2 separate regions of the Homo sapiens genome follow, and region 2 is linked to region 1. The links come from fine-mapping of genetic effects on gene expression. A gene starts in region 1. The other region holds a variant in brackets. All regions are shown on one strand. Distances are between the middles of the regions. Region 1 holds the start of MRPL51 (mitochondrial ribosomal protein L51). Region 2 holds the start of VAMP1 (vesicle associated membrane protein 1).

The links. PIP is the estimated chance that this variant, and not a neighbour inherited with it, causes the effect.
Region 2: its variant is fine-mapped to the expression of MRPL51 in regulatory T cells (Bossini-Castillo 2019, PIP 0.91).

What each region holds. Positions count from the first base shown.
Region 1 is chr12:6,485,829-6,497,132 of GRCh38, forward strand. MRPL51 (mitochondrial ribosomal protein L51) reads right to left here and starts at 7,434. Exons shown (of 3, transcript NM_016497.4): 1 at 7,230-7,434; 2 at 7,034-7,144; 3 at 6,058-6,639. The coding sequence starts at 7,308. The coding sequence ends at 6,443. NCAPD2 (non-SMC condensin I complex subunit D2) reads left to right here and starts at 8,274. Exons shown (of 32, transcript NM_014865.4): 1 at 8,274-8,326; 2 at 9,248-9,397. The coding sequence starts at 9,271. RefSeq lists enhancers at 7,652-7,701, 7,869-8,466 and a silencer at 7,902-8,231.
Region 2 is chr12:6,466,427-6,477,730 of GRCh38, forward strand. It overlaps VAMP1 (vesicle associated membrane protein 1), which reads right to left and starts at 4,251. Exons shown (of 5, transcript NM_014231.5): 1 at 4,104-4,251. The coding sequence starts at 4,105. It also overlaps a transcript of TAPBPL not described here and the pseudogene PKP2P1. RefSeq lists silencers at 3,733-3,782, 4,283-4,332, 4,543-4,802. The variant A/G (reference allele first, on the strand shown) is at 4,722.

The DNA of each region.
Region 1 (11,304 bases):
GCCACTGTACCCAGCCACTTTATCAGTTTTGTAGAAATCAATTAGATTCCTGTTATAAAAGATGAGGTTTTAGTTCTTTTTGATTATCTCATTTGATATTGTAAAAGGAATTTTAAAAAATGCAAATCTATAATTAAAACGAATGTTAAACTTGGAACAGAAGGAAATATCTTAACTTGGTAAAAGTTATATACTAGAGATTCATAACAAATATTTAATAGACATGTATTCCATTTAAGATTTAGAACAAGAAGAGGATGCCTTTTTTTTTTCTTTCTTTTCTTTTCTTTTCTTTTTTTTTTTTTTTTTTTGAGACAGTCTCACTCTGTTGCCCAGGCTGGAGTGCAGTGGCGCGATCTCAGCTCACTGCAACCTCTGCCTCCCGGCTTCAAGCGATTCTCCTGCCTCAGCCTCCTGAGTAGCTGGGATTACAGGCGCCTGCCACCACGCCCGGCTAATTTTTGGGTTTGTTGTTGTTGTTGTTTTGTTGTTTTTGAGATGGAGTCTCACTCTTGTCACCCAGGCTGGAGTGCAATGGCGCAATCTCGGCTCACTGCAACCTCCGCTTCCTGGGTTCAAGCGATTCTCCTGCCTCAGCCTCCCAAGTAACTGGGGATTACAGGTGCCCGCCACCATGCCCAGCTAATTTTTGTATTTTTAGGAGAGATGGGCTTTCACCATGTTGGCCAGGCTGATCTCGATCTCCTGACCTCAAGTGATCCGCTCACCTCTGCCTCCCAAAGTGCTGTGATTACAGGTGTGAGCCACCACCCGTTGTTTTTTTTTTTTTTTTTTGAGACAGAGTTTTGTTCTTGTTGCTGGCAGGGATTACATGCGTGAGCCACCGTGGCTGGCCCTATTTTTTTTTTTTTTTTTTTTAGAGAGAGAGATAGGCTCTTGCTCTGTTTCCCAGGCTGGAGTGCACTGATGTGATCATAGTTCACTGCAGCCTTGAACTCCTGGGCCCAAGCCATCCTCCCACCTCAGCCTCTCAAGTAGCTAAGACGACAGGCACTCACCAGAACTACAGGTACTCACCAACCTACCCAGCTATTTTTTTCTTTTTATTTTTTAGAGGCAGGGTCTCACTATGTTGCCCAGGCTGGTCTCAAACTCCTGGCCTCAAGTGATCCTCCCCTCCCGCTTGGCCTCCAAAAGTGTTGGGATTACAGGTGTGAGCCACTACGCTGGCCAGTACCTCATTTTACAGCTTAATAATATTCCATTGTCAGTGTGCAGGAAGGAGTGTTAAAAAGAAAGTTAAAAAAATAATATTCCATATTCTGGTTGGGTGTGGTGGTTCACGCCTGTAATCCCAGCACTTTGGGAGGGCAAGGTAGGTGGATCACGAGGTCAGGAGATCGAGACCACCCTGGCTAACACGGTGAAACCCCGTCTGTACCAAAAATGCAAAAAATTAGCCGGGCGTGGTGGCAGGTGCCTGTAGTCCCAGCTATTCAGGAGGCTAAGGCAGGAGAATGGTGTGAACCTGGGAGGCGGAGCTCGCAGTGAGCCGAGATCGGGCCACTGCACTCCAGCCTGGGCGACAGAGCGAGACTCTGTCTCAAATAATAATAATAATAATATTCCATATTCTATTGTATGGATAGACCACATTTTGTGTATCCATTCACCAGCTGACGGATATTTGGATTGTTTCTTCTTTTTAGCTATTATGAATAATGTTGCTAAGGAGATTTATGTACAAGTGTTTGTGTGGACATATGTTTTCAGTTTTCTTGGGTATAAACCTAGGAGTGGAATTACTGGGTCATGCAGTAACTCTACACTTAACTTTTTGTGGAACTGCCACTTTTCCAAAGTGGCTGCACCATTTTACTAAAGGCTAAATTTTTTTTTTTGAGATGGAGTCTCACTCTGTCGCCCAGGCTGGAGTGCGGTGGTGCGATCTCAGCTCACTGCAAACTCCGCCTCCTGGGTTCACGCCATTCTCGCGCCTCAGCCTCCCAAGTAGCTGGGACTACAGGTGCCCGCCACCATGCCAGGCTAATTTTTTGTATTTTTAGTACAGATGGGGTTTCACCGTGTTAGCCAGGATGGTCTCGATCTCCTGACCTCGTGATCTGCCTGTCTCAGCCTCCCAAAGTGCTGGGATTACAGGCGTGAGCCACCGCGCCCGGCCCCCTAAAGGCTAAATTTTAATAATCATTACAATCTTCAGGATCTGACTCTTGCTTCCCATCTCTTTCCCTGTCTTTTACCACAAGCAGTAGCTCCACCAGTAAATACCACTCATAGCTTTCTCATGCACACCATGCTGTTTCTTGACTCTAGGCCTTTATTTCTGCTTCAACTGCCTGGAAAAACTGCTAGCCTCCACTCCCTTAAGACAACTCAGTGGTCACCTCTTCTCTAAAGCCCTTCTCGTCCCCATTCCTGCTTCCTCAGGAAAAGATAGGTGTCTCTTCCTCTCCACACCTATACACATAGCTATTAACAAACTTTAAATGTCATGACATACTGGATTTCATAACTATGCTTCTTCATCTGCCTCTTGCACTGGGTGGAATTCTTTTTTCCTTTTTTTTTTTTTTAAAGGCAGGATCTTGCTATGTTGCCCAGGCTAGAATGTAGTGGCCTGATCTCAGCTCACTGCCACCTCCACCTGCTGGGCTCAAGCCATCCTCCCCCCTCAGCCTCCTGAGTAGCTGGAATTACAGGCATGTGCCATCATGCCCAGCTAATTTGTTTTTTGTATTTTTTTAGTAGAGATGGGGTTTCACCACTTTGGCCAAGCTGGTCTTGAACTCCTGACCTCAAGTGATCTGCTCACCTCGGCCTCCCAAAGTGCTGGGATTACAAGCATGAGCCACTGCTCCTGGCCTCAAGAGCTCATTCTAATGCCATCTTTTCAACAAATACCTTTTCTGATCATCCCCCTCAGCAAAAAAAAAAAAGAAAAAAAAAACCTGTCATGGGACTCGCTTTCATTATCATATTTAAATTTACATTTTGTTTACATACACATCTCTTCTTTTTTTCTTTTTTCCAGTCTTACCCCTGTATAAACTGGATGAAGCTGCTGCCAATTTAACCAAGTGGGAATCCCAGTGCTAATTGTCTGCTGGATGGGATATCTTTATTGGAGCAGATTAACATAGCCTCACATTTGTGGTTTGTGACCACTGATTTAGCAAATACATTGTTTTTCTTTTTTCTTTTTCTTTTTCTTTTGAGACAGGGTCTTGCTTTGTTGCCTAGGCTGAAGTGCAGTGTCACAAGCTCAGCTCACTGCAGCCTCGACCCCCAAGGCTCAAGCAATCCTTCCACCCAGCCTCCACAGCAGCTGGGACTACAGGCACATGCCACCAACGCCTGGCTAATTTTTTTTTTTTTTTTTTGTGGAGACAGCATTTCACCATGTTGCCCAGGCTGATCTCGAATTCCTGGGCTCAGCTGATCCTCTCGCCTCAACCTCCCAAAGTGTTGGGATTACAGGTGTGAGCCACTGCACCTGGCGAACATCCTTTTCTTTTTTGTTTTTTTCCTTTGAGACAGAGTTTCGCTCTTGGTGCCCAGGCTGGAGTACAATGGCACGATCTTGGCTCACTGCAACCTCCACCTCCCGAGTTCAAGCGATTCTCCTGCCTCAGCCTCCTGAGTAGGTGGGATTACAGGCATGTGCCACCAGGCCCAGCTAATTTTGTATTTTTAGTAGTCAGGGTTTCTCCATGTTGGTCAGGCTGGTCTCGAACTCCTGACCTCAGGTGATCCGCCCACCTTGGCCCCCCAAAGTGCTGGGATTACAGGCCTGAGCCAGCATGCCCAACCAACATTCTTTTCTAAAGCATGTTGGTCAGAAGCAGTCCACCACGGAGGGGATGAACAACAGTATACAGTCATGGTCTTTCATCAGGGCTATGTTAATTCTGTTCTCTGTCATGATGTAATCTAAAAAATGTGGACCATTTGCACATTCTGCAGAGTATCACATTGGTCCACCATCTTGTAACTTTACATCCTTCAGACGTCTTTTTTTTTTTTTTTTTCTTTTTTTAAAGACAGAGTCTCCCTCTGTTGCCCAGGCTGAAGTGCATGGTGCAATCTCAGCTCACTGCAACCTCTCTGTCTCCCGGATTCAAGCGATTCTCCTGCCTCAGCCTCCCGAGTAGCTGGGATTACAGGCACACACCACTATACCTGGCTAATTTTTTTGTATTTTTAGTACAGACGAGGTTTCACCATGTTGGCCAGGATGGTCTTGATCTCCTGACCTCGTGATCCGCCCACCTAGGCCTTCCAAAGTGCTGGGATTACAGGTGTGAGCCACCGGACATCTTTTAAGTAGAATGAAGACTACTTAGAGGTAGGAACCAACCCTACCTTGGTGATTTTTGTTCCTCCAAATATCTTTGCACATAATAATTCAATATTTATTCAAAGAAAACGTTATATACTGTTTCATACCACAAACAAGATTGTTCTGTCCTTGAAAACAAAACCTTTTGTATCTTTGAATCAGGAAATATTCTATAAATGCCTATTGACCTATTAATTTCCTCTTCCCTAACAATCAGATACTCTACCAGGATATGTAGATATCTTCTTCAGGGCACCTTGCACTTAGCAGAGTCCCAAATATTTTATTTTCTCCACTCTAGCACCACCAAATCATGTAAAGTATACAGCCACTCACATTTCACATCAACTTCTCCATTCTTATGCATAGCTCCTTCCAGCCACCCCTCTGAAAACTGACTCTCCTAAACATTTCCGTAAGACCCAGGATCATGTTTTCATATATACCCATCAATCCATTTATCCAAAACCCACTTGTAATTTAACAAGTGCTTTTTATTTTTATTGAAGATGGGGTCTTGCTATGTTCCTAAGGCTGGCCTCCAACTCCTGGTTTCAAAGGATCCTCCCACCTCAGCCTGCAGAGTAGCTGGGATTATAAGTGTGCTCCAACCACCATGCCCCGCAACAAGTATTTATTAATCTAACTTCACTTTTATGGAGTTTTTGTTTTTTAAAATATAGAGATGGGGTCTTGCTATGTTGCCCAGGCTGGTCTTGAACTCCTGGCTTCAAGCAATCCTCATGCCTTGGCCTCCCAAAGTGTTGGGCTTACAGGTGTGAGCCACTGCACCCAGCCCTAACTTCACTTTTTTTTTTTTTTTTTTTTTGAGACAGTCTCACCCCAGTTGCTCAGGCTGGAATGCAGTGGCATGATCTCAGCTCACTGCAGCCTCAAACTCCTGGGCTCAGGTGATCTTCCCACCTCAGCCTCTTGTGTAGCTGGGACTGCAGGCACGCAGAACCATGAGTAGCTGGAACTACAGGCATGCAGAACCATGCCCAGCTAAGTTGTTTTTTTTTTTTTTTTGAGACAGAGTCTTGCTCTGTTGCTCAGGCTGGAGTGCAGTGGCACGATCTCGGCTCACTGCAAGCTCCACCTCCCAGGTTCAAGTGATTCTCCTGCCTCAGACACCTGAGTAGCTGGGACTACAGGTGTCCGCCACCACTCCTGGCTAATTTTTTTGTTTGTTTGTTTTTGTATTTTCAGTAGAGACAGGGCTGTGTTAGCCAGGATAGTCTCGATCTCCTGAGCTCGTGGTCCGCCCCCCTCCGCCTCCCAAGGTGCTGGGATTACAGGCAGGAGCCACCGCACCCAGCCACTTTATTTTTAGTAGAGACGGAGTTTCACCATGTCGCCCAGACCAGTCTCAAATTCCTGTCTCCAAGCAATCCTCCCACCTCAGCCTCCCAAAATGCTGGGATTACATGTGGGCACCATTCTGCCCAGCTGTAATTCTTAAAAATTATTATTAAAAAAGAACAAAACACATAGATGCCCTAGACTCAACTCAGCTCTACTGATCAATCTTTAGGGGTTAGGACTAGGCTTTTGAAATGTTAAAACACCCAGAAAACTGATGACCAGTCAGGCTTAGTATCCGCCATCTCTACCATTCATATGGTACTTAATGTTTCATATTTAAATGGAAAGGACACCTCACACTTTTTTGTTTTTCCTATAGTTCCTACTCAGAGAATATGCCTAATAAATATTTTATGAGAGTAGTACAGAAGTATGACTCCATTTTTCTCTTATATTTCATTTCAGTGTGGAAGGCTCTTTAGAAACACTATTAACATAACAGCATTATGTCAAAAAGCGCCAATAACATTCTCACCAACTTTTCTTTTTAAAGGAATTAGGTATAGCTAGACTGTAAAAGGCAAGTGGTGTGAAGCCCAAACCTAAGATCCTAAGATCTAGGATGAGTCAAGACTTCATAGTCTACATGAGTAGAGGCAGCATCTAGAGGAAAACAAAAGTATGTGGCTATCAAATTCCAAAGAAGCCCCATTTTATTACAGAGAAAATACAAAGCCGTTTCCTCACAGGGAAAAGTACAGTTTCCCTTCTCCAGGGTGACAGATGAGCCTTTTCCGAAGTTCTCAGCTTTCTCTTCTATCGAAACTTCCCATGTCGGTTAAAGTGTTTGTAGAGATAGCGGATGCGTTTATTAAGGTTGTGCAGGTCATCAGCGAACATTCTACTTCCAACCATTTTCCTCTTTCGGATACAACGTTGCAATTCATTCCCTTTCCAACCTCGAAGCCATATGGGCCCCCTGATCAGTTCTTTGGGGTGCTTTTCAAAGTTTCCTGTGTAATGTGAGAGAACACATTAGATCCAAGACAAGAGAACTCATCCTACACCAGCTAAGCTTTCAACCCACGGTTGCATCTTGCTGAGCAGCACCTATAGACAAGGAACATTACAGTACAGAACAATAGCACAGACTCTGGAGCCAGACTGCTTGGGGTTAAAATTCTGATGCTGCCATTTATTAACTTTGGAAAAACTGTTTATTTTTACTTATGAAGTAAAAATTATACGAGGGGACTCAGAACAGTGCCAAACACAATGTAAACAGCTACATAAGTGTTTGCTCTTACTATTGAGCACAGTACCACTCTCTACACAGGAGGAAAAGATAGTCGTTACAGCCTAATTGCCATTCTGAAATTGTGTACCACGTCGAAGGTCAAGTCTTACCCAGGATCCCGATGTTGTCATACACTCCGAACATGGCCCTTTTCTCGTTCCAACGATCAACCACTTTGGGGGGCGGGAGAGTGAGCCTTATACCGATCAATCTAGGCACACCTGGGGATGGGGAAGGGAGGGAATTAATCTGAGCCGCCTATTATACTACGAAGCAGTTATCGGGGTGCCTACATCAGCCACTTACCAAGAGAGAAGCTTCTGCACGCCAGAGGCACCCAGTCCCACAGGCGCCTACCTGCCCCGGATAAGAGGTTCCCTGCCATTTCTCTAGTCTCCCCCCTTCAACAGCACACCAAATAAGCCCAAGAAGATGACAGGAACCGTCCCCGCCAACTTCACACGAGTACTAAGGCGAAGACAGCCATCTTGGGCCTTACCCAGGCAGCTGTGGGCGCACCGCCCACCTACGCCCCATCCGCAACAGCCACGAGCCCCGCCCCCCGGGTTCCGGCAGGAGGGGCCTCTACCACCCTTCCCGCCTCAGTGCTTCCGGTCCGCCTGCCGGAAGTTTTGGAGCGCCGGACAAGCTGAGGTCCGCGACTCGTCGCTAAGATTCCCCAAAACTGAGATTTCAAGAAAATTCACCCTTTCCGCTTTCTTTGGCGTCCTTCAACCGTGAAGGAAATGAAGGTTGAGAACCTGGAACCCGCTTCCAATGACCAAGCCCTTTCTCTGTGCCTCACAACAGTCTTCCGCTGTAGCTGTTTTTATTACCCCTATTTTACTACTGGGGAGGAGATTTGAGGTCCTGAAAGTGAAGTGACTTGCTGGACGTCACTTAGCAGAGGAGATGGCGAAACCTGGATTAGAGGCGATGCCTTCTAACTCCCAGCGTGGACTTGCCTCCTTTCCTGGGGGTGACTGAATGCCCAGCCAGGGACGCGACGTCTCTGGCCAGCAGAAATACGGCCTCCTCCCCGCCGACTGGGCAAAGGGGGACCTTGCGGCCAAGGAGGGATTCGCAGGCGGGCCGGGGGTGGGAGCGGGGGCCGGAGCCGGAGCCTTGGCCCGCCCCCGGGCGGCGCTGTGATTGGCCGGCCGCTCCGGCGGGCGTCGCGATTGGCCGTCCTGCAGCCGTTGAGATTTGAACTCGGTATTTGTGGCTTTGCCCGCGCGTTGCCAGACTCAGAGGCGGCCCTTTGCCTCTGCCTGCCGGGGATTGGCCGGATTCTCCGCCGACTTGAAAACTGCCTTGCTAATTGGTGCGTGTTGTGCACGCGTGTTTTTTCCTTTTCATTTCAGCCTGACTGCCGGAATCAGAGCCGCGGGTGAGATCCCCAGGTAAGATGTGGTGTTGCAGGTCGTAAAAGAGTAGGAAAGTCGAGTACATGGCAGTGTGACCCAGTCTTGGGCAAAATACAATAGGCCTAGTAAGTATATCCCTGGGGCGCGATGTGTGAGAAACTGTAAGTCTGACAGATCCGCAACGGAAGTTGTTAAGCAAATCGCTTAACAGATCCGCAACGGAAGATGTTAAGCAAATCGCTTAACAGATCCGCAACGGAAGATGTTAAGCAAATCGCTTAACTTTCTTACTTCAATTTCCGCTCTGTAAACTCATTTGTATTATTATGCACCTCATGGGATTGAGGTTAGGATACTTAGATCAGATATGATACATGCAAACAGCCTAACAGACTTGGCACAGGATAAATAAATCATCATTGTTAATGCTCTTACCATTCTGGTGCAGGAAGCCCACTAGCCCATGCTGGGGCACTGTTTTGGCCTCAGACGAGATCAGACCATTCTCTCTATACTTAAGGAGCTTTGCACATAAAAATGGAAATAATAGTACTTTGCACATTAATATGCCACTTTATAGTTCTTTAAACACCTTCGTACTGCTTGATTTGTTTGATCATCAGAGCAACTTTGTGAAGTAATCAGAGTTTAGTAACCCTGTTTTTACAGATAAAGCCCAGAGGTTTAAGTGTCAAGACCAAGTGCCAAAGTCACTACTAGAATTAGTTTCTAGTCCAGGGTCAATCTCAGATCCCGTAAGATAATGTTACTAGCTTGCTATAAAACTAAAAACCATTATATATGTTGGGGGTGGGGAACTAACAAAACCAGATGATGTTACTAGCTTGCTATAAAACTAAAAGCCATTATATATGTTGGGGATGGGAAAGTAATAGAACCAGATACGAAGACAGGTCTTGAATATAGACCCTGACTTTTTCACTGTTTGGTTTCTAGCCCTGTGAGCCTGTAGGAGTAGAATGGCTCCCCAAATGTATGAGTTCCATCTGCCATTATCCCCAGAGGAGTTGTTGAAAAGTGGAGGGGTGAATCAGTATGTTGTGCAAGAGGTACTGTCCATCAAACATCTTCCACCACAGCTTAGAGGTAAGAGTCCATAGCTGTCACTGTACCTAGCTCTTTCAAAGGACCATCTCACATGGAATTGCTACATTGTCATTTCTGTTCCACTACACCAGGAAGCATCATAAGAGCAAGAAACATGTTTTTCCTATTTTGCTGTTTTATCCTAAAATTGCATGGGATGCATGACCCAAAGAGTACATTCATTAACTTCCTTTTCTGGATTAGTCAAAAACAGTCTTGGTGTATGTGATTACTCTTTGGGGAAAAGTTATTTTCCATCTTTACCCCTTACTGTGTGTCAAAATTAAGTCCTGGTGGATTTAAGAGTTATAGGAGTGGATCGCTTTTTCAGAATGTCTCGGACTTAACTCGACCTGTTTTTGGTAATACCTTTTTGGAGTCTTTTTGGATGTGCAATTATGGGGACAAAAACCCATAATATATATGTACCACTGCAACACTGAGCAATATATGTACAGTGCAGTCACCTACTGAAACCTGTAAATGATCAAAAGCACCTTTTGCATTACCAGAAAGACTTCATAATGTCCTTGTACTTGTTGGGAGCGGTCTTGTAGCAGTTAGCTTGCTTTGGAGAGGTATAGAGATTAAAGACTGGAGCCAGGCTGCCTGGATTTGAATCCTGGTTCTACCACTCTGACCTTAGACAAGTTACTTAATTGTCTCAGTGCCTTGGTTTCGTCATCTGTAAATATAGAGATAATAACCAATTCCTTTGTTATCACCTACAAGAAGAAGGGTTGGTTAATGCAGCAGCTCGACAATATGGTCCTAGCTTGTCTCCTCTTGGCTTTTCTTTCATGGTTGCTAGATTGCAACTTCTTTTTGTTTTTCTTTTTTTTTTTTTTTTGAGACAGGGTCTCACTCTGTTGCCCAGACTGGAGTGCAGTGATGCGATATCGGCTCACCACAACCTCTGCCTCCCCAGGCTCAAGCGATTCTCCTGCTTCAGCCTCCCAAGTAGCTAGGATTACAGGTGCACGCCACTACCACCTGGCTAATTTTTGTATTTTTAGTAGAGACGGGATTTCACCATGTTGGCCAGGCTGGTCTTGAACTCCTGACCTCACATGATCCACCCACCTTGGCCTCCCAAAGTGTTAGGATTATAGGCGTGAGCCACTGCACCAGTCTAGATGGCAGCTTCTTCCTCTAATGTCCAGAAGTGGAAAAAGGAATTTTCTTTTTGTACTTTTTATTCTTTATTTTATTTTGAAAGACAAGGTAAAGACTCTCTTGCCCAGGCTGGAGTCCAGTGGCATGATCACGGCTCACTGCAGCCTCAACTTCCCAGACTCAAGCAATCCTCTCACCTCAGCCTCCCAAGCAGCTGGGATCACAGACATGCACCACCATACCTGGCTAATTTTTAAATTTTCTGTAGAAACAGTGTCTCCCTATGTTGCCCAGGCTGGTCTCGAACTTCTGGGCTCAAGCAGTCTTCCCGCCTCAGCCTCCCAAAGTGCTGGGATTGCAGGCTGGAATGCAGTGGCCTGATCACAGCTCACTGCAGCCTCAATCTACCAGGCTCAAGCAGTCCTCCCACCTCAGCCTCCCAAGTAGCTGGGACCACAGACATGTACCAAAGTGCTGGGATTGTAGGCATGAGGCACCATGCTCGGCCAGACTTTTTTGTTAAAAACTAAAACACCTACACACATTAGCCTAGGCCTACACAGGGTCAAGGTCACCAAGAAGTCACTAGACGATGGGAATTTTTCAGCTGTATTATATTTTTATGACACCACTGTCGCATATGTGGTCTATTGTTTACCAAAATGTTACAGGGCACAGGACTGTACAGGTAAGAGAAATAGAATTACCCAGACTGGTTTAACTGATCAAGCTTATTACCTAGGAGCCTCCCTAAACTTGAGCATATCAACCATTTGGTAAGCAAGGAAGAA
Region 2 (11,304 bases), 19 kb before region 1:
AGTCCCAGCTACTCAAGAGGCTGAAGTGGGAGGAGCGCTTGAGCCCAGGAGTTCGAGGCCAGCCTGGGCATCATAGCGAGACCCCATCTCTAAAAAAACAGACAAAAAGAAAGGACTCACATGCATCCTCACCCCAAACCACTTAAACAATTATGATTAGGCTATACAAAACTAGAATGGATTCTTGCTCCTTGGCAATCTGAAGTAGGGAGACAAACCATAGAGGCAAGAAGTAAAAGATGAAAGACTCTGCAACAACATTTGGATGGGGTTCAGGGACATCCAGGATGGCATCAAGACATCTCATCTGGGGCTATCCTTTGACTCAACTCAAACAAGTCCTCTGCCATGATGGCTACAGGGACATATGGCCTAGCCTTGTCCTAAATGGCATTTCCCCGCTGATATGGTTTGGCTGTGTCCCCACCCAAATCTCAACTTCAATTGTATCACCCAGAATTCCCACATGTTGTGGGAGGGACTCAGGGGAGGTAACTGAATCATGGGGCCCATCTTTCCGGTGCTATTCTGGTGATAGTGACGAAGTCTCATGAGATCTGATGGGTTTATCAGTGGTTTCTGCTTTTGCTTCTTCCACATTTTCTCTTGCTGCTGCCATGTAAGAAGTGCCTTTCACCTGCCGCCATGATTCTGAGGCCTTCCCAGCCATGTGGAACTGTAAGTCCAATTAAACCTCTTTTTCTTCCCAGTCTTGGGTATGTCTTTATCAGCAGCATGAAAACAGACTAATACAGTAAATTGGTACCAGTAGAGTGGGGTGTTGCTGAAAAGATACCCAAAAATGTGGAAGCGACTTTGGAACTGGGTTAACAGGGAGAGGATGGAACAGTTTGGAGGGCTCAGAAGAAGACAGGAAAATGCGGGAAAGTTTGGAACCTCCTAGAGACTTGTTGAATGGCTTTGACAAAAATGCTGTTAGTGATATGAACAATAAGGTCCAGGCTGAGGTGGTCTCAGATGGAGATGAGGAACTTGTTGGGAACTGAAGCAAAGGTGACTCTTGTTATGTTTTGGCAAAAAGACTGGCAGCATTTTGCCCCTGCCCTAGAAATTTGTGGAACTTTGAACTTGAGAGAGATAATTTAGGGTATCTGGCAGAAGAAAAGACGCAGTACTAAAGAAAAAAACCATTTTTTTGAGAAGAAATTCAAGGCAGCTGCAGAAATTTGCATAAGTAGCAAGGAACCTAGTGTTAGCCCCTAAGACCATGGGGAAAATGTCTCCAGGCCATGTCAGAAGCCTTCATAGCAGCCCCTCCCATCACAGGCCTGGAGGCCCAGGAGGAAAAAGTTATTTTGTGGGCCAGGCCCAGGGTCCCCATGCTGTGTGCAGCCTAGGGACTTAGTGCCCTGTGTCCCAGCCGCTCCCACTGTGGCTGAGAGGGGCCAATGCAGGGCTCGGGCCGTGGCTTCAGAGGGTGGAAGCCCCAAGCCTTGGCAGCTTCCACATGGTGTTGAGCCTGCAGATGCACAGAAGGCAAGAACTGAGGTTCGGGAACCTCCGTCTAGACTTCAGAAGATGTATGGAAACGCCTGGATGTCCAGGCAAAAGTTTGCTGCAAGGGCAGGGCCCTCATGGAGAACCTCTGCTAGTGTAGTACAGAAGGGACATGTGGGGTTGGAGCCCCCACACAGAGTCCCCACTGGAACACTGCCTAGTGGAGCTATGAGAAAAAGGTCACCATTCTCCAGACCCCAGAATGGTAGATCCACTGGTAGCTTGCACCGTGCGCCTGGAAAAGCCACAGACACTCAATGCCAGTCCGTGAAGGGAGCCAGGAGGGAGGCTGTACACTGTAATGTCTGTCAGCTCACCCCTTTTTATATTCAAGTTATTGGTTATGGTTATTGGTTTATATGCCCAGTTATTGGTTATGCTTCACACAAGATGAGGAAATCAGGGCTGCCATAAGGGCAGCTTGGAAAATCACCAAAGGCAAAGTCTATGTAGGTGGAGTGAGTCAGGACTGTTTGTTTGCTTTGTTTTTGGCAGAGAAAATGGGGGTTTCACTTAGATAGAATCTGGGGCCCAAAGCAATTACATTAGTTATGGAAACTGTTCCAAGAGCATAGACAGGAAGCAAAAATGCTAGAAATTGTCCTCAATGTGCATGCATTATAGACATTCTGTCCCTTCCTTTTCTGGATTTGACAGTCTCAGATGACTCCCTTGGTTACTTACATCCCAAAGAGAGATCTTGGTTTACTGTACTATACACACAGAGAATGTTCTCTCATTCTGTACCACTCAAAGTTAGTGTGTGGTCTTCAAGACAAACTCCTCTCCATGTCCCAAAACATGGAGGCTAAACTCACCTCCTAAAGAATTCCCAGAAGTATAACCTAAGTCATGAGATGTTCTCGGCCAAGGAAGCACCCACAGGCAGGGGGGAGATCTCTCAAATTTGATGGAGAATAGAAATTACAGTAAGAACTCCTCAAACAGAAGCAGAATCTCACCAAACATACTTCACAGGAGCAGTCCAAGAGTAAATGCAACAAAAATGAAACCACAAAGTCACCTAAAAGGAAATTATTTGACTAATTACAATAGAACTAATACCCAGAAGCTCATTCTCCTTGATTAAGTGAATTTCTTTTAGTCTAAAAAGATAGAGAATAACTCCTCAGAGAGGCTATGGTAGCAGATTACACCTGACTCATTCCCCATTTGAAGAATCACTTTTCCATTTCCCTCTAAGGTGCAAAGGAGGTAAAGCAAAGATAGACACAAAGTCATGGGAGCCACAAGACTCTTGTCCTGCCACTGAGCTAGCTAAGCAATCTAGCTCTCGACTTAAGGCAGAAAATTCAATGAGTAGGTAGCAGCCAGTGTTGGAAGCAGTCCAGGATGGTAGCACCAATGACAAGATTAAGGTCAGAGACCTCGTGATGCCCCGCTAGCCACCACGATTTTTCTGTTGCCTTCTGTTCATCCCACGTAGATACTATCTGGAAGCCCCCTCCCCAAAATGAAAACAACTGGAATTCTACGGCTTGCCCAAAATGCATAGAACACTCATATCTGGTTAAAACCATAGAAATCAAAAAGAAAAAGTGAAATGGCTATGAAGTATTTGCAAGGCCAATTTCACTTACTACTTGTTGGGAGTTGGAAACACTCAACAGTAAAATATCTAGGGATAATTACAACCCTTATGTAACACAAGTAAATCTTTCCCTTTTTTGTCACTTAGAGAAGCAACATAAATACATCTAGGACCAGGCCAGGGTAGTAATCAGAAAGAAAAATCTGTATTAGACATATTGAGGTCTTGACAGAGAAGTACTTCGTTTGTTTAGCCGTAGTTTTCCCTCAAGATCATGCGAAGGGGGTGATGTTGAAGACTGCTGGAGACTAAACTGTGTGTGTTGGAGGAAAGGGGGAAAGCTCAGCTCTCCCTATTTCTCCTCCAACTATTTGGTAAGACTCGGTGATAGAAAAACATCTCCTATACGAATGGCCTTGGTATGAACAGCCGCTTGGGATGACAGGCCACTATCCCACTACCCCTTGAGTCTTTCTGAGCTGCTCACCTGGTGCCAGAGAACTGGCAGATAAGTTTCTGCAGCTTTGCTCACTGCCATGAGGGGGGCTAGACATCACACTTTGGGTGAGGGGTAAACAAATCCAGAGATTGTAGGGCAACATAAGTTACCAACTGGCAGTTGCACCCATGACTGTCTTTCCTGAGGCGCTGAGTAGTGATTTAGCCAGATGACAGAAATACCTTTCGAGTCCCCTGCCCAGTTGTCTCCATCCACCACCCCCAGCCCCCGCCCTCTCCGAGTCTCCACTATACCAAAACCAGAATGAGGCGCCACTCAGACGAGAGGAGAGGGTGCAATGATTGTGGGACCCCTGCGCCCCTGCCCCGCCCGTGGGGTGCTAGCTGTGGCTGGTGCGAGAATGGGGTGCTGGCCCCCCTCCCTGGGGGTGGCCCGGTCCGGAAGCGGCGCGCGGTGGTAGTTCCCCGCGTTGCTGCAGCTGCTGCATTGCGCCATTTTCCGTCCCGCAGAATCGGGAGCTTGGGGCGAGAGTTGTCAAGGAGGTGCCGAGCCCCCACACCAGAGTCAACTCACATTTTTCTGACAGAGAGAGTGAGGGTCTGTTCCTCTCCGGAGGCTGCGGCGAGACACCCGGTGAGGGACGCTGCGGCTGAAGTGGACGGAACTGCCAAGCTCCGCCTCGCGCCGACTACCCCGCGGTCTAGCTGCGCTGGAACTTACTGCAGCTGCCGCGCCGGCCTCCGCCTTTATTAGTGCTGACCACGCCTCCCGGATAACGGTGACAACCCCGCGGCCCAATCCATGCCCAGGACGGTCGCCCAGCGCTACAGGCCTAGCCCGCCCCGCCCCTGCCAATTGCCAGTCACAACTCTCCTCTCATCCGACTCCGGAAAGGAGCGGTTGCTGTGAGGATCCTTCAGTGATCAATGCGACCATAGTTTGCGCTCCAGTCTGGCGGAGGGACGGGGCGGGGTGGAGATGAGGTCTGTCCCTTCGGAGGGCGCTTCAGCAGTTTGTTAGGCATTTGTGGTGCCTCCCAACCAATCGCTAGGCAGTTACTGAAGACCGTGCCCGCCCCTGCCCCACCCCGCGCCGGGACTCGCGCATTCAGCTGGAGGCGGCGGCTTCCTGGTGCGCGCCCAGCCCTGGTGCCCTGCTCTGGCCCTCGCTCCGCACCACCGCCCCGCCTCT[A/G]ACTAACGCTCTGAGAGGGTGCAGGAGCCTCGAGACACAGCCACAAGCTCCTGGTGCCAGATACCGGATGCGGGGTTCCGTCCCACCAAAGCAAGCACGAAGCTTTCGTTCATTCGTTTCTTTCAACATAGCCTTCCTAAATTGAACTCCCTCCCAAACCTGCTCCAGTCGAGGTTACCACATCGACTCAGTTGCCCAGACCAGAAACGTGGAAACCATCCTAGATTTCCTCCCCTTCACCTTTACCTCTCCCCCAGTAATCTGCCAAATCGAGTTGATTTTTCCTTCTTGGCATTCCAGTGATTATCTCCCCTCTGCTCACTATTATCCCTTTCCTGGACTCCATCAGTTGGAAAATTCACCATTATTTTATGTCCCGCTAAGAAAAAAGGTTACAAGGCCGGGCGCAGTGGCTCACACCTGTAATCCCAGCACTTTGGGAGGCCGAGTCAGGCAGATTACCTGAGATCAGGAGTTCGAGACCAGCCTGGCCAACATGGCGAAACCTCTGTCTCTACTAAAAATACAAAACAGCCAGGCATGGTGGCGGGCGCCTGTAATCCCAGCTACTCGTGAGGCTGAGATAAGAGAATCGCTTGAAGCCGGGAGCCGACGGTTGCAGTGAGCCGAGATCACGCCACTGCACTCCAGCCTGGGCAACAGAGCAAGACCCTGTTTCAAAAAAAAAAAGAAAAAAGGTTGCAAATTATCTGTGACAAATGCTTTCCTTACCACTTAGCATTTTTGTTTTACATGTATTGAAAATATGGGTTTATATACATACCGATTTCTATATTTCACTCTTGTGCATGCATAAAAAGGGAAATAGAAAACAATAACATGGTAACTATCCCTAAAACTTCACAGAGACTGATTGTTAATGATTCACTTTTTTGACTCAGTCTTGGATGTCCACTAATTTCCACGCAATGTAGTCCTCTGTGCATTTCATAAGGGCTTTGGTGATGCAGCATTTCCTAAGAGTGTTCCTCTCCAGGCTCTAGAGTTTTCTTCCAAGCCTCAGACACCCATTTGGCAAGCTTTGATGCTCATGAGCAGGTATGACAAATATAGTTTGACTGCTGTCTGACTAATAGCTAAAGTGAAACATCCCAATTAGAAGATATTGAAATGCAAAAAAACAAACAAACAAGCACACACAAAAAACCCAAGTGCCTCCTAAGATCAATGATACATCATTCTGCTTCCAGTCTTGCCATCCTTTACATCTATTCTCTAAAAAGTCCACCAAAGTTATCTATCCAAATGTCACAAGTCTTCTTAAGGAAACAATTGCACTTGGAAACATAATGCATTCATCATATGTGTTTATCCCATTCTCCTCCTGAAACCACATCAAAATGGCAAGTTAGGGGGAAAAATGACAATTTGGGAAAATTTGCAAAAAATTATAAGCCCCCAAAGACAAAAAGAATGGGGCCGGGCGTGGTGGCTCACTCCCGTAGTCCCAGCTATTTGGGGGGCTGAGGCGGAAGGACAGCTTGAGCCCAGATGTTCCGGTTGCAGTGAGCCGAGATCACGCCACTGCACTCCCACCTGGGTGACAAAATGAGACCCTATCTCCAAAAGAAAAGAAAAAGGGCCAGGCGCAGTAACTCACACCTGTAATCCCAGCAATGTGGGAGGCCAAGGAGGGCGGATCACTTGAAGCCAGGAGTTCAAGACCAACCTGGCTAACGCAGCAAAATCCCGTCTCTACTAAAAATACAAAAATTAGCTGGGCATGGACGCCTGTAGTCCCAGCTACTCGGGAGACTGAGGCAGGAGGATCACTTGAACCCGGGAGGCGGAGGCTGCAGTAAGCCGAGATCTTGCCACTGCACTCCAACCTGGGCAACAGAATGAGACTGTCTCAAAAAAAAAAAAAAAAAGAAAGAAAGAAAGAAAAAGAAAAGAAAAAAGAATGGGAGGAAATATTTCTGGCAGCATGAATGCCTATTTATTCCCACCAACTTTCCCCTGAAAAAAAACTTAAAATCATTGAATGGTGACTCACGCCTATAATCCCAGCATTTTGGGAGGCCAAAGCAGGAGGATCACTTGAGCCCAGGAGTTCAAGACTAGCCTGGACAACATGGTGAAATCCTGTCTCTACAAGAAATAGATACAAAAAAATATAGCTGGGTATTGTGGCACACACCTGTAGTTCCAACTACTTGGGAGGCTGAGGTGGGAGGATTACCTGAGCCTGAGGAGGTCAAGAAAGCAGTGAGCCATGATCACACCATTGCACTCCAACCTGGGCAACAGAGTGAGACCCTGTCTCAAAAAAACGGGGTTGAGGGGGTGGCATTTTTTAAACTTTTTTTTTTTTTTTTTGAGACGGAGTCTCCCTCTGTCGCCCACGCTGGAGTGCAGTGGCGCTATCTCGGTTCACTGCAAGCCCCACCTCCTGGGTTCACGCCATTCTCCTGCCTCAGCCTCCTGAGTAGCTGGGACTACAGGCACCCGCCACCACGCCCGGCTAATTTTTTGTATTTTTAGTAGAGACAGGGTTTCACAGTGTTAGCCAGGATGGTCTCGATCTCCTGACCTCATGATCCACCCGCCTCGGCTTCCCAAAGTGCTGGGATTACAGGCGTGAGCCACCGCGCCCGGCCTTAAACTTTTTATTTTAAAGTAATTATAGATTCATATAAGGTGGCCAAAAAAAAAAAATACAATACAGGGAGGTTCCCCTAAACCCCTTTACCCAGTTCCCCCAACAGTAACATCTTGTATAAATACAGTTTAAAATTATTAAAATATTAAAACCAGGAAATTATCATTAGCAAAATCCAGAGTTTATTCAAATTTCACCGATTTTCCAAACTGGCATGTACCACCAAACACTTCTTTTTGTGTTCGTGTGTGTTTGAGTGGTTTTATGCAATTGTATCATGTGTAGATTTGTGTAACCACAACCACAGTTAGGATACAGCATTTTCACATTACTGCAAGGCTCCCATGTGCTACCCCTTTATATTCCAACCCACCGCCATCCCTAAACCTTAGCAACACTAATTTGTTCTCCATCTCTGTAACTTTATTTCAAGAGCCTTATGTAAATGTAGTCATGCTTTTTTCTATATCACGTAACCTTTCAAGATTGGCTTTTTTCATTCATCCAAGTTATTGTGTGTATCATTACTTTTTCAACCATCCAAGTTATTGTGTGTATCATTAGTTTTCACCACTGATTAATATTCCGTGGTACATTTAACCATTTACCTGCTGAAGGACATTTGGAGTGATTTCAGCACTGGGCTATTACAAATAAAGTTGCTGTGAACTTTCATACAGGTTTTGTGTGAACATAAATTCTCATTTCTCTGGGATAAATGCCTGAGTGCAATGCTTGGGCAGTAAGGTAATTGCATCTCTAGTTTTATAAGAAACTGCCTTTGCCTGTGTTGCCCAGGCTGGTCTTAAACTCCTGAGCTCAAGCAATTCTCCCACTTCAGCTTCCCAAGTAGCTAGGACTATAGGCATCATGCCCAGCTGTATTTTTCTTATTTTAACCATTCTAATATGTGTTCAGTGCTATCATTGTGGTTTTAATTCTTATTTCACTGATGGCTAATGATATCAAATATCTTTTAAAGTGTTTGCCTTGTATATATTATCCTATTTGATGAAATGTTGGTTCATGTCTTTTGGCCATTTTCTTTTTTTTTTTATTGATCATTCTTGGGTGTTTCTCGCAGAGGGGAATTTGGCAGGGTCATAGGACAATAGTGGAGGGAAGGTCAGCAGATAAACAAGTGAACAAAGGTCTCTGGTTTTCCTAGGCAGAGGACCCTGCGGCCTTCCGCAGTGTTTGTGTCCCTGGGTACTTGAGATTAGGAAGTGGTGATGACTCTTAAGGAGCATGCTGCCTTCAAGCATCTGTTTAACAAAGCACATCTTGCACCGCCCTTAATCCATTTAACCCTGAGTGGACACAGCACAGGCCGCAGAGAGCACAGGGCTGGGGGCAAGGTCACAGCTCAACAGCATCCCAAGGCAGAAGAACCCCTCCCAGTACAGAACAAAATGAAGTCTCCCAAGTCTACTTCTTTCTACACAGACACAGCAACAATCTGATTTCTCTATCTTTTCCCCACCTTTCCCCCTTTTCTATTCCACAAAACCGCCATCGTCATAATGGCCCGTTCTCAATGAGTTGTTGGGTACACCTCCCAGACGGGGTGGTGGCCGGGTAGAGGGGCTCCTCACTTCCCAGAAGGGGTGGCCGGGCAGAGGCGACCCCCACCTCCCTCCCGGACGGGGCGGCTGGCCGGGCGGGGGCTGACCCCCCACCTCCCTCCCGGACGGGGTGGCTGCCAGGCAGAGACGCTCCTCACCTCCTAGACGGGGTCACGGGCGGGCAGAGGCGCTCCCCACATCTCAGACGATGGGCGGCCGGGCAGAGACGCTCCTCACTTCCTAGACGGGATGGCGGCCGGGAAGAGGTGCTCCTCACTTCCCAGACTGGGCAGCCGGGCAGAGGGGCTCCTCACATCCCAGATGATGGGCGGCCAGGCGGAGACGCTCCTCACTTCTCAGACAGGGTGGCTGCCGGGCGGAGGGGCTCCTCACTTCTCAGATGGGGCAGCTGCCGGGCGGAGGGGCTCCTCACTTCTCAGACGGGGCAGCCAGGCAGAGACGCTCCTCACCTCCTAGACGGGGTCACGGCCAGGCAGAGGCGCTCCCCAAATCTCAGACGATGGGCGGCCGGGCAGAGACGCTCCTCACTTCCTAGACGGGATGGCGGCCGGGAAGAGGTGCTCCTCACTTCCCAGACTGGGCAGCCGGGCAGAGGGGCTCCTCACATCCCAGACGATGGGCGGCCAGGCGGAGACGCTCCTCACTTCCCAGACGGGGTGGCGGCTGGGCAGAGGCTGCAATCTCGGCACTTTGGGAGGCCAAGGCAGGCGGCTGGGAGGTGGAGGTTGTAGCTAGCCGAGATCATGCCACTGCACTCCAGCCTGGGCAACATTGAGCACTGAGTGAACAAGACTTGGTCTGCAATCCCGGCACCTCGCGAGGCCTTCTGAGTAGCTGGTACTACGGGCGCCTGCCACCATGCCTGGCTAATTTTTGTATTTTTAGTAGAGACGGGGTTTCACCATATTGGCCAGGCTGATCTCGAACTCCTGACCTCAGATGATCTGCCAGCCTCAGCCTCCCAAAGTGCGGGATTACAGGCGCGAGTCTTGTATTTCTTTTAAAATCAATCTCACACACACCCTTTTTTCTCCCTCTCCCTCACATATCCTGTTTTCTCTTTTTAGACATCGGACTATTAATTAGATATTGGACTATTTGGCTTAATTTTCTAATTATCTTTCTTATTTCCTGTCTCCATCTCTGCTGGTTCTTGTTCTTGGTGCCTTGTTCCTTATTTGTTTGGAATTTTTGACCACAATTTATTTTTCTTGGAACTGTATCTGTGGAAATTCCCCGAGGCCTAGATTAAAGATGAGTTCATCCAGAAAGGATCTGCATTGCTTCTGCTGGGTTCTTGGTGGTACTGTCAATCCAAAACCACTTTAAATTCTTGCCATTTTCTTTTTAGGATCAACAAAGAGTTCAGGCAGAAACACCACAGCCTGTGGTTATACATTCTCTGCAAATACTTAAAAGAAAAAAATAAAAGAACTCCAGCAGGCACCTGGGTTCCAGACAAACAACATTCCACGGAGTGCTCTGGGGCAGTTTGGGTTCTAGTATATTCGTAATTCATTCTTAGATGAGGATATAGTCCTTTGGGGTTCTGACTTTATGGTAAGGACTTTCTATTAGATTTCCAACCTTGGGTAAGCCCTGGGCTTTATTTCCTGTGCCACAGTGGTAGCCTGTGAGGCTGCTACGCTCATATTAAACTTTATAGCAAATACCCTCAGAGCAAAATAGTCTTTGGGACTCAGCAACTTCCCTGGTTACTGGCTTTCACTTAGTTTTTCGTGTTTAAATAGTCTTTACTCTCAGGCCAACTCATAAATAGATTTTATCTATAGAAGAACAAAGAAGAATAAAATAGGAGGAATAACTATCTCATGCTTACTACTATATAGTTGCAGTAATCAAGACAGTGTGGTATTGGTGGGAGGACAGACACATAGATCGATGGCACCGATGAGAGAATGCAGAAATAGACCCCTACAAATATGCGCATCTGATTTTTTTTTTTTTTTTTTTGAGACAGAGTCTTGCTCTGTCGCCAGGCTGGAGTGCAGTCATGCAATCTCGGCTCACTGCAACCTCTGCCTCCCAGGTTCAAGCGATTCTCCTGCCTCAGCCGACCAAGTAGCTGGGACTACAGGCGTGCGCCACCACGCCCAGCTAATTTTTTGTATTTTTAGTAGAGACGGGGTTTCACCGTGTTGGCCAGGATAGTCTGGATCTCTTGACCTCGTGATTCGACTGCCTTGGCCTCCCAAAGTGCTGGGATTACAGGCGTGAACCACCATGCCTGGCCTTCTGTATTTTTTAAGATTCCTATCTGGAGAGCCCCCAGCTCTGCGGCGGCTTCACCCGCGAGTCCCAAGGCAAGCGAGCGGCTGGGTCGCCCCCACCGGCCCCATGGCAGCCCCCGGGG